2 separate regions of the Homo sapiens genome follow, and region 1 is linked to region 2. The links come from fine-mapping of genetic effects on gene expression. A gene starts in region 2. The other region holds a variant in brackets. All regions are shown on one strand. Distances are from middle to middle.

Region 1 (5,376 bases), 930 kb before region 2:
AGCACTGTTGGCTCATTAGCGTGTAAGCTCCCTGAGCCAGTGACCACCTCCCAGCTCAGTGTCAGGGATATCACAGGCACACCCAAAATCTTACTCTTCAATATCTTTCCTTTTAAATTATTTCATTTTTAAATTAACTTTTAATTTTTTATTGTGATAAAATAGACATTACATAAAGTTTACCATTTTAACATTTTTTTTGAGACAGAGTCTCGCTCTGTCACCCAGGCCACAGTGCAGTGGTGCAATCTTGGCTCACTGCAACCTCCGCCTCCCAGGTTCAAGCAATTCTCCCATTTCAGCCTCCAGAATAGCTACTCCAGAGTAGTAGGACTGCTGGCGTGCACCACCACACCCAGCAAATTTTTGTATTTTTAGTAGAGGCGTTGTTTCGCCATGTTGTCCAGGCTGGTCTCAAGCTCATGACCTCAAGTGATCTACCCGCGTCGGCCTCCCAGAGTGCTGGGATTACAGGCATGAGCCACTGTGCCTAGCCAGAATTTGACTGTGCTAAGTGCTTCCTATAAGTAGTATTGTACAATATTTGTCCTTTTGAGTCTGGTTTATTTAACCTGGCATAATGTGTTCAAAGTTAATTCATGCTATGGCATGTTTCAGTACTTCATTCCTTTTTATGACCAAATAATATTTCCATTGTATAGACATCCATTGATTTGGTGTATCCATTTATCCTTTGATGGACATTTGAATTGTTTATACTTTTTGGCTATTGTGAGTAATGCTGCTATGATGCTATGAACGAGGGTGTACGAATATCTGTTCAAGTTCCTGGTTTCAATTATTTTGCGTCTATACCCCGAAGAGGAATTGCTGGATCACATGTTTATTCTGTGTTTCTTTGTTTATTTATTTATTTATTTTTGAGATGGAGTTTTCCTCTTGTTGCCCAGGCCAGAGTGCAGTGGCACGATCTCAGCTCACTACAACCTCCACCTCCTGGGTTCAAATGATTCTTCTGCCTCAGCCTCCTGAGTAGCTGAGATTACAGGCGTGCACCACCACGCCCAGCTAATTTTTTGTATTTTTAGTAGATTCAGGGTATCCTCATGTTGGCCAGGCTCGTCTCGAACTCCTGACCTCAGGTGATATACCCACCTCGGCCTCCCAAAGTGCAGGGATTACAGGTGTGAGCCACCGCACCCTGCCCTGTGTCGATTTTTTTCCTTTTTGTCTTTTTTTTGAGACAAAAAAAAGTCTCACTCTGTTGCCCAGGCTGGAGTGCAGTGACGCACTGTCAGCTCACTACAATCTCTGCCTCCCAGGTTCCCGCATTTCTCCTGCCTCAGCCTCCCAAGTAGTGGGGACTATAGGTGCACACCACCACGCCCAGCTAATTTTTTTTTTTTTTTTTTTTTTTTGTGACAGAGTTTCACTGTGTTGCTCAGTTGCAACCTCCGCCTTCTGGGTTCAAGCAGTTCTGCCTCAGCCTCCTGAGTAGCTGGGATTACAGGCACGCGCCACCACACCCAGCTAATTTTTGTATTTCTAGTAGAGACGGGGTTTCACCATGTTGGTTAGTCTGGTCTTGAACTCCTGACCTCGTGATCCGCCTGCCTCGGCCTCCCAAAGTGCTGGGATTACGGGCGTGAGCCACCATGCCCGGCCTTTTTTGGTTTTTTTGAGAGGGTCTTCATTCTGTCGCCCAGGCTGGAGTGCAGTGATGTGACCTCCGCTCACTGTAGCCTCTGCCTCCCAGGTTCAAGAGATTCTCGTGCCTCAGCTTCCCTAGTAGCTGGAATTACAGGCGCACATCACCAAGCCCACCTTTTTGTATTTTTAGTAGCATTCCAATCTCCCTTGGTTTAATGTAGAGGAAGGGATCCAAAGGCTTAGGGAAATTGGAACGCTAGAGTGGATTAGTCACTTTAGACCTACTCATCCCCACTGGGAGGGTCCAGAAGACCTATCCTTCACCATAGGGTATAACCTTGTGAAACAGATTTCTGAAGGGAGCACCCGTGTCCTTGAAGAGCTCTGTGATTGCTCCTCTCTGTATGCCAGATCGTACAGTGGGAACTGTACTCACTCAATTGGAAAACTTAAACGCAGTGGGAATAATTAAATCCCAAGGTGGCAGGAGCCAAGTGGCAACACTCAACCATCAAAGGCAAAGCAGATGTAGTTACCGTAATGGACAGCAGAGGCAAAGCAGCAATCGGAATAGTCTGACTCGTTGATAGAAAGCCTACTGAATTCTTTTTTTTTTCTTTTGAGACAGAGTCTTGCTCTGTTGCCCAAGTTGGAGTGCAGTGGTATGATCTCAGGTTACTGCATCCTCCCCCTTCTGGGTTCAAGTAATTCTCCCGCCTCAGCCTCCCGAGTAGCTGGGATTACAGGCATGTGCCACCAAGTCCAGTTAATTTTTTTTCTTTTTTTTTTTTTTGAGAGGGAGTCTTGCTCTATCGCCCAGGCTGGAGTGCAGTGGCGCAATCTCGGCTCACTGCAACCTCTGCCTCCCAGGTTCAACAAAGGTTTTTACAGGCTGGGACTACAGGCCCATGCCACCATGTCCAGCTAGCTTTTGCATTTTTTGTAGAGACGGGGTTTTACCATGTTGTCCAGGCTGGTCTTGAACTCCTGGCCTCAAGTGATTCACCCGCCTCAGCCTCCCAAAGTGCTGTGATTACAGGCATGAGCCACTAGGCCCAGCCCAATTTTTTTTTTTTTTTTTT[G/TG]AGATGGAGTTTTGTTCTTGTCAGCCAGGCTGGTCTTGAACTCCTGGCCTCAAGTGATTCACCCGCCTCAGCCTCTCAAAGTGCTGTGATTACAGGCATGAGCCACTATGCCCAGCCCAATTTTTTTTTTTTTTTTTTTGAGATGGAGTTTTGTTGTTGTCACCCAGGCTGGAGTACAATGGCACAATCTTGGCTCACTGCAACCTACACCTCCCGGGTTCAAGCGATTCTCCTGTCTCAGCCTCCCGAATAGTTGGGATTATAGGTGCCAGCCACCATGCCCGGCTAATTTTTTGTAGTTTTAGTAGAGGCGGGGTTTCGCCATATCGGCCAGGCTGGTCTTGAACTCCTGACCTCAGGTGATCCACCTGCCTCGGCCTCCCAAGATGCTGGGGTTATAGGCATGAGCCATTGCACCCAGCCCACCTGGCTAATTTTTGTAAATTTTTAGTAGAGACCAGGTTTCGCATGTTGGCCAGGCTGGTCTCAAACTCCTGACCTCAGGTGATCCACCTGCCTTGACCTCCCAAGGTGCTGGGATTACAGGCCTGAGCCACTGTCCCTGGCCCAATTTTTTTTTTATTTTTGTAGAGACAGCATTTTGCCATGTTGCCAGTAGTAGAGACTGGTTTCAAACTCCTTACCTCATATGATCTGCTGCCTTGGCCTCCCAAAGTGCTGAGATTACAGGTGTGAGCCACCATGCCCAGCACCTACTGCATTCTTAATTTGTATAAACAGAAAATTTCCAGGTTGAGTGGACAAAAGACTAATTTGAATTATAAAACAGAGACTCGGCCAGGCGTGGTGGCTCACGCCTGTAATCTCAGCACTTTGGGAGGCCAAGGCAGGCAGATCACCTGAGGTTGGGAGTTCGAAACCAGCCTGACCAACATGCAGAAACCCCATCCCTGCTAAAAATACAAAATTAGCCAGGCGTGGTGGCACATGCCTGTAATCCCAGCTACTTGGGAGGCTGAGGCAGGAGAATCGCTTGAACCTGGGAGGCGGAGGTTGTGGTGAGCTGAGATCGTGCTTTTGCACTCCAGCCTGGGCAACAAGAGCGAAACTCTGTATCAAAAAGAAATAGAGAATCATGGTCTCTCAAGCAATTTCCAGACTTGAGCCAGTTTACAGACCCAGAACTCCTTGAATGAAGGGGAGGCCAGGTCCCCTTGAAGAACGACCCCACTACACTATGGACAATTTATACTGCTAATCTTTCTCCCATATTTCCCCACGGAGACCTCTGGGCTAAGTTAATTGTGCATTAGGGAAAGGGGAATAATTAGACCTTTGAGGGAGTACTGGATGCTGGCTCTTAGCTGACATTTATTCCAGGGGACCCAAAACATCACTGTGGTCCTCCAGTTAGAGTAGGGACTTATGGAGGTCAGGTAATTACTGGAGTTTTAGCTCAGGTCCAACTTACAGTGGGTCCAGTGGGTCCCTGTACTCATCCTGTGGTCATTTCCCCAGTGCCAGAATGCATAATTGGCATAGACATACTTAGTAGCTGGCAGAATCCTCACAATGGCTCCCTGAGCAGTAGGGTGAGGGCTATTGTGGTGGGAAAGGCCAAATGGAAGCCATTAGAGCTGCCTCTGCCTAGAAAAACAGTAAATAAAAAACAATATTGGGCCAGGCACAGTGGTTCACACCTGTAAGTCCAGCATTTTGGGAGGCTGAGGCGGGCAGATCATCTGAGGTCAGGAGTTCAAGACCAGCCTGGCCAACATGATGAAACCTTGTCTCTACTAAAAATACAAAAAATTAGCCAGGCGTGGTGGCAGTTGCCTGTAATCCCAGCTATTCGGGAGGCTGAGGCAGGAGAACCACTTGATTCCGGGAGGCAGAGGTTGCAGTGAGGTGAGACTCCATCACTGCACTCCAGCCTGGGCAACAAGAGCAAAAGTCCGTCTCAAAACAAAACAAAACAATATTGCATCCCTGGAGATTTTGCAGAGATTAGTGTCACCATAAAGGACTTGAAAGACAAAGAGGTGGTGGTTCCCACCACATCCTCGTTCAACTCTCCTATTTGGAGAAGAAGGCAGGCGGATCTTGGAGAATGACAGTGGATTATTGTAAGCTTAACCAAGTGGTGACTCCAGTTGCAGCTGCTGAACCAGATGTGGCTTTATTGCTTGAGCAAATTAACACATCTCCTGGTACCTGTTATGCAGCTACTGATTTGGCAAATGCCTTTTTCTCCATTCCTGTCCACAAGGCCCACGAGAGGCAATTCGCCTTCAGCTTGCAAGGCCGGCAATATACTTTCACTATCTTACCTCAGGGGTATATCAACTCTCACAAAGCTGGTATATCCAGCTTTGTGTCATAATCTTGTTCGCAGAGATCTTGATCACTTTTCCCTTCCATAAGATATCACACTGGTCCATTACATTAATGACATCATTATGCTGATTAGACCCAGTGAGAGAGATGTAACAAACACACTGGACTTACTGGTGAGAGATTTGCATGCCGGGGAATGGGAAGTAAATCTGACTAAAATTCAGGGAACCTCTACCTCAGTGAAATTTCTAGGGGTTCAGTGGTGTAGGGCCTTGCCTGTCGAGATATTCTTTCTAAAGTGAAGGATAAATTGCTGCATTTGGCACCTCCTACAACCAAGAAACAGACACAGTGCCTACTGGGCCTATTTGGATTTTGGGGGCAA
Region 2 (5,376 bases):
GATCCCACTCTCCTCAAGGCAGGATCACCTACACTCACAGAAGTTCCACAAGAATCAAACTTGGTACCAAAAAAAAATCACTTTGTTGCTATGGAAATGCCCCCTAAAGATGTCTGACCACTCATACCTGCATTTCACACTTTTTTTTTTTTTTGAGACAGAGTTTCCCCCCGTCACCCAGGCTGGAGTGCAGTGGCGCAATCTCAGCTCACCGCAACCTCCACCTCCTGGGTTCAAGCAATTCTCCTGCCTCAGCCCCCCAAGTAGCTGGGACTACAGGTGTGTGCCACCACACCCAGGTAATTTTTTTGTATTTTTAGTAGAGACTGGGTTTCGTCATGTTAGCCAGGCTGGTCTCGAACTTCTGACCTCAGGTGATACACCTGCCTCAGCCTCCCAAAGTGTTGGGTTTACAGGCATGAGCCACCGTACCCAGCCCATTTCACACTTTTAAAAATGAGATTTGCCCAGGCGTGGTGGCTCACGCCTGTAATTCCAACATCTTGAGAGGCTAACGAGGAAGGAATCACTTGGGCCCATGAGTAAGAGACCAGCCTGGGTAACATGGCAAAATCTTATCTCTACAAAAATAAAAAAATTAGCTGGGCGTGGTGGCACACACCTGTGGTCCCAGTTACTTGGTAGGCTGAGGTGGGAGGATCACTTGGGCCCGGGAGGTCCAGGCTGCAGTGAGCCATGACGGCTCCACTGCACCCCAACCTGACTGGGAGAGAGAGACTCTGTTTCAAACAAAAAAAGAGATTTGCCCAAGGAAAGTGTAATGGCAAGTGAGTTTCAAATGTGACTAGAGCTAGCAAACTCTTATCAGGATTGTCACATTTCCAAAAGTATCTTCTTTGGGCTTATAAATTCTTCAATCTCTGTGTATGTACATATTGAAACATGAGGCTCATGTTTTACTGTTGTGGGATTGGTTTCTTCTTGACAAAAAGATTATAATCACAATATAAAATGATCAAGGGTCTTAAAAAGAACTTTAAAAATTTAAGCAGGCTGGGCGTGGTGGCTCACGCCTGTAATCCCAGCACTTTGTGAGGCTGAGGCGGGTGGATCACGAGGTCAGGAGTTCAAGACCAACCTGGCCAAGATGGTGAAACCCCGTCTACTAAAAATACAAAAAAACTAGCCGGACATGGTGGCAGGCACCTGTAATCTCAGCTACTTGGGAGGCTGAGGCATAAGAATCGCTTGAACCTGGGAGGGAAGGGTTGCAGTGAGCTGAGATCATACCACTTCATTCCAGCCTGGGTGACAGAGTGAGACTCCATCTCAAAAAAAAAAAAAAAAAAAAAAAAATTTAAGCAATCAATGGATAATAACTAGGAAACAATACATGTATTATATACCCTTCATTGTATATCTCACCCCACACATGAATTAACTCAAGATGGATCATAGACCTAAATATTTAGCAATTATAGTCTGTATATAATGTGATTGATTACAGATCTGTATTTTACAATGCAACTGATTATAGCATCTGTACATGAAATGCAATCAATTACAGATTTTAAGAGGAAAAAAGCCTATTAATATCTTTCATGGTCAACAAAACTCTACCTCTCCTGCTGGTACTCAGTCCTGCAGTAGGTGCACTTCACAACAGGGTGTGCAATCCGACATTCCTGAAATGAAATGAGGATATAATTTTAAAAGGCAGTCACAAATGGAAACAGCCTTCAGTAGGAAGCCGACCTGGGTACTATTTCTAGCATAGCTACTATGCTTGAGTGAGTCACTTAAACTTTCTGGGCCTTATTTTTCTCCTCTGTAATACTGGCATCACTTCCCTACTGTTGATGTGGGAGTTAAGTAAGAACTTATATGGATTATATGGAACTAGCCATAAATTGTAAAACAAACATATATATGAACAAGTCCCAGACTGGGAATCAGAAGCCCTGAATTCCAGGCCTGGTTCTTCTGCCACTGTGTGATTTTGCGGTTTACTTGTGAAATGAAAGTGCTGGATTAAAATTATTATTTATATATACATAACTTCCTTAAAATCATATATACATATTTTGAGGCCAAAAAGGGCACTCAAGCACTTGCATTCCCCCAGACCTGGTATATAAAAACTGGCAAATGGAAAGTCATGACCATCTGAGGCAAAAGTGACAATTATGAGTTATCCAAATCAGAGACACAAACTGGATTATTGGATAACCTCAACATTATTCTTCAGCCAGTTTGGTGACTTTTTAACTGTTGCCTCACAGCACCTCTAGTCACTTAAAAAGTAAAAGTGGGATAAAGCAACTTAAAAGAAAAAGAGAAGTTGGACCTTCAGGAGCAAAAACTGATCAGCAGCTAGTCAGGGAAGACCGAAGACCACCAACTGGATGCTGAGAAGTGATCCCTCGGATCTGTGAGCCTGACTGTGGGGCTTTTTTAAAACATAAAGCCTTGCTGCCTCCGATTCTGAGACTGGCCGAAAAGTGAGATGCTTAAAAAAAAAAAAAAAATCAAGCCTTGCTACCTCCGATTCTGAAACTGGTCGAAAAGTGCCCGTGAGGAGCCCGAGTTCGACACATTCCTCCAAGGCAGCACCCAACTTTGGAGTTCAGTCCCAGGAGGGGCAGGAGGTCCCCACCAGGGAGACCGCGGCGGCGGGGGAGGCAGCGCAAAGGGATCCCGAAGGCGACCAGTCAGGGCAAGCAGGGGACCCGCTGTCCCTCCCCCGACCTCACGGGGTCCGAGAACAATCCCCACGGTTGCTAAGCACCCGGACACGCCGGCCGCGGGAGCCTGGACCGGGTCCCGGCTCCCGCACGTGCCCCGCCGGCCCCCAGCGGGGTGGGTGCGGCTCCTCAGCCTGGCGGGCCTGCCACACCCTGCTCCGGGGACCCCGCCGGGCGTCCCCACAGAATCTGGAGCTCCGGGCCGCGCCTCCTGCGTCCCCAGTTCCCGGCCGCCGCCCCAGCCCGCGCACCTTGCACAGCTGCTGCCCCTGAGACAGCGCCTCGAAGGGGAAGCGCTGGTGGCACTTGGTGCAGGCGTAGAGCGCCGCCATGTCCGGCCCGGGCCGCGCTCACCGACCCGCCGGCCCGGCCCGCCGATTTATCTGACAGTCTGAGGCACAACCCGGCGGCGGCTGCAGGCTGCTGGCTGCGGCAGGCGGGCGGGCGCAGGCGGGTCGGGGCGGACCCGGGCGGGCTGGGGCGGGCACGGCGACTCTAGACGCCCGCTCACTGGTGGGCTTTGACGTCGATCAAGTGGGAAGGGGCGGAACACGGAGCTTTCGCCCACTCTGATTCGGTCTGGCCTGGAGTACGCCACTGTGACGCTCCAGGCCGCGATTATGTAAAGCGCAGTCACGCGGGGGCGCCACCTGGAGGGGACAGGCTCCCGGCCGGGACCTCGGAAGAGCTTAGGCTCCGCCCTACTTGCTCAGCGTTCCCGCCCTCGCTCCGCCTCTCCACGGCCTCAGGCGCATCTGCGCTTCTCGCGATACCTTCGGGGATTTGTGATGTTTTGGTTTCCATGGAGCTGCCCTCTGGGAGCACGAGGGGTACAATTGGAACGAAGGCGGCGCACAGTTAACTGGAACTCTGCAGCCGTCCAAGCCCAAAGAAGGTGGGGAGCTTGGGAAAGAAGTTCCTCATAATCGGAGCAGGAGGAGCCCGCCCAGCCTCGCTCAAAGGAGGAGACGAGACTCTGAGGGACAATTTAGAAGTGTGTCCTCAATTTAAGACACCTAAATAGGGAACTGTGGGGCTGTGGGCCTTAGGAGAGAAAAGGAGAGCCCCAGAGAGAGCACCCCTATGCTGCGGAAGAGGGACTAAAGAGATGGCAGTCCTTCCAGGAGGGATTGGACAGATATTCAGGCGTCCGGTGGCCTGCAGGCCCCCATCAGAGTGGGCTGCAATTGGCCCAGACCTGCTTCCTACTTTGTTTTCTCCGGTTTCACCCCCAGCTTCTCTCGCAAGCAACCACCTGGTGATTCCTGACGAGGCCTGACTTCCGGAAGGCAAGCCACGCCCTCCGGGCTCCCCTGCCTCTCTTTGGCTCCAGCTTGGCATGTATAGGAGCTGCCCAAGGAATGACAGACTTCTTGTTCTTGAGGTGTTGGCAAAGCTTCCTGCACTGCTGACCTATCCAAGTCCTGCCTTGTAGCTGCTCTTGGGCATAGGTTACTCTTGGCTCTGCCAACCACCCGTACAGGACTAATTGCAGTTTTACCTCAACGTGCGCTTTTTACAATTAAAAACTGACTTAATGGCTTCTATTTCCCTGCCTCAACAAAAAAAATTTACTCTCTCTGAACCCAAATCTGGCTGCTTCCTTGTAGGATCCCCCAAAGATGTGCATTAATCATTAGGATCAGAAAGCAAAGTTTCCAAATCACTGTTCCACAACTAACTACATGACCTTGGATCTATCACTGAACTTCTCACGGCCTCGTTTTTCTCAATTGTACAATGAGGTCATTGTGAGAATCAAAACCAGTACATGAGTCGGGGCGGGATGGCTCACAACTGTAATCCCAGCACTTTGGGAGGCTGAGGCCAGAGGATCACTTGAGCCTTGGGATTTAAGACCAGCCTGGGTCGGCCGGACGCGGTGGCTCACGCCTGTAATCCCAGCACTTTGGGAGGCCGAGGCGGGTGAATCACCCGAGGATCACCTGAGGTCAGGAGTTCCAGACCAGCCTGACCAACAAGGTCAAACCCTGTCTCTACTAAAATACAAAAATTACCCGGGCGTGGTGGCAGGCGCCTGTAGTCCCAGCTACTCGGGAGGCTGAGACAAGAGAATTGCTTGAACCTGGGAGGCAGAGGTTGCAGTGAGCCAAGATCATGCCACTGAATTCCAGCCTGGACTACGGGGCAAGACTCCGTCTCAAAAAAAAAAAAAAAAAGACCAGCCTGTGCAACACAGTGGGACCCCATTTCTACAAAAAAACTTTTTTAAAAATTAGCCGGGTGTGGTGGCACGAGCCTGTGGTTCCAGCTACTCAGGCGGCTGAGGCGGGAGGATCCCTTGAGCCTGGACAGTCGAGGCTGCCCTGAGCCATGATTATGCCACTGCACTCCAGCCTAGGTGACAGAGTGAGACCCTGTCTCAAAATATATATGCAAATACAAATAAAAACAGTACGTGGAGGAAAATGTGGGGAAATTGTTTAATGGGTAAGGGGCTTTTGGAGTGATGAAAATGTTTTGGAACTAGATAGAGGTAACGGTTGTTCAACATGGTGAATATACTTTTTTTTTTTTTTTTTTTTTGAGACAGAGTCTGGCTCTGTCTCCCAGACTGGAGTGCAGTGGCGCAATCTTGGCTCACTGCAACCTCCACCTCCCAGGGGTTCAGGTGATTCTCCTGCCTCAGCCTCCTGAGTAGCTGGGATTA

Direction of the effects. Alleles are on the strand shown, and positions count from the first base shown. SD is a standard deviation of normalised expression in the study named.
With allele TG in place of G in region 1, the expression in CD4 T cells of the gene that starts at base 3,157 in region 2 is higher (large effect, 1.8 SD a copy in Kasela 2017).

Evidence for each region.
Region 1: its variant is fine-mapped to the expression of FAM76A in CD4 T cells (Kasela 2017, PIP 0.95).

What each region holds. Positions count from the first base shown.
Region 1 is chr1:28,656,258-28,661,633 of GRCh38, reverse strand. No RefSeq gene overlaps it. Among named protein-coding and RNA genes, the nearest start is that of GMEB1, 9.8 kb to the left of the region's middle. The variant G/TG (reference allele first, on the strand shown) is at 2,694.
Region 2 is chr1:27,723,742-27,729,117 of GRCh38, reverse strand. FAM76A (family with sequence similarity 76 member A) reads right to left here and starts at 3,157. Exons shown (of 9, transcript NM_152660.3): 1 at 2,957-3,157; 2 at 1,582-1,646. The coding sequence starts at 3,037. RefSeq lists silencers at 2,633-3,332, 3,171-3,813.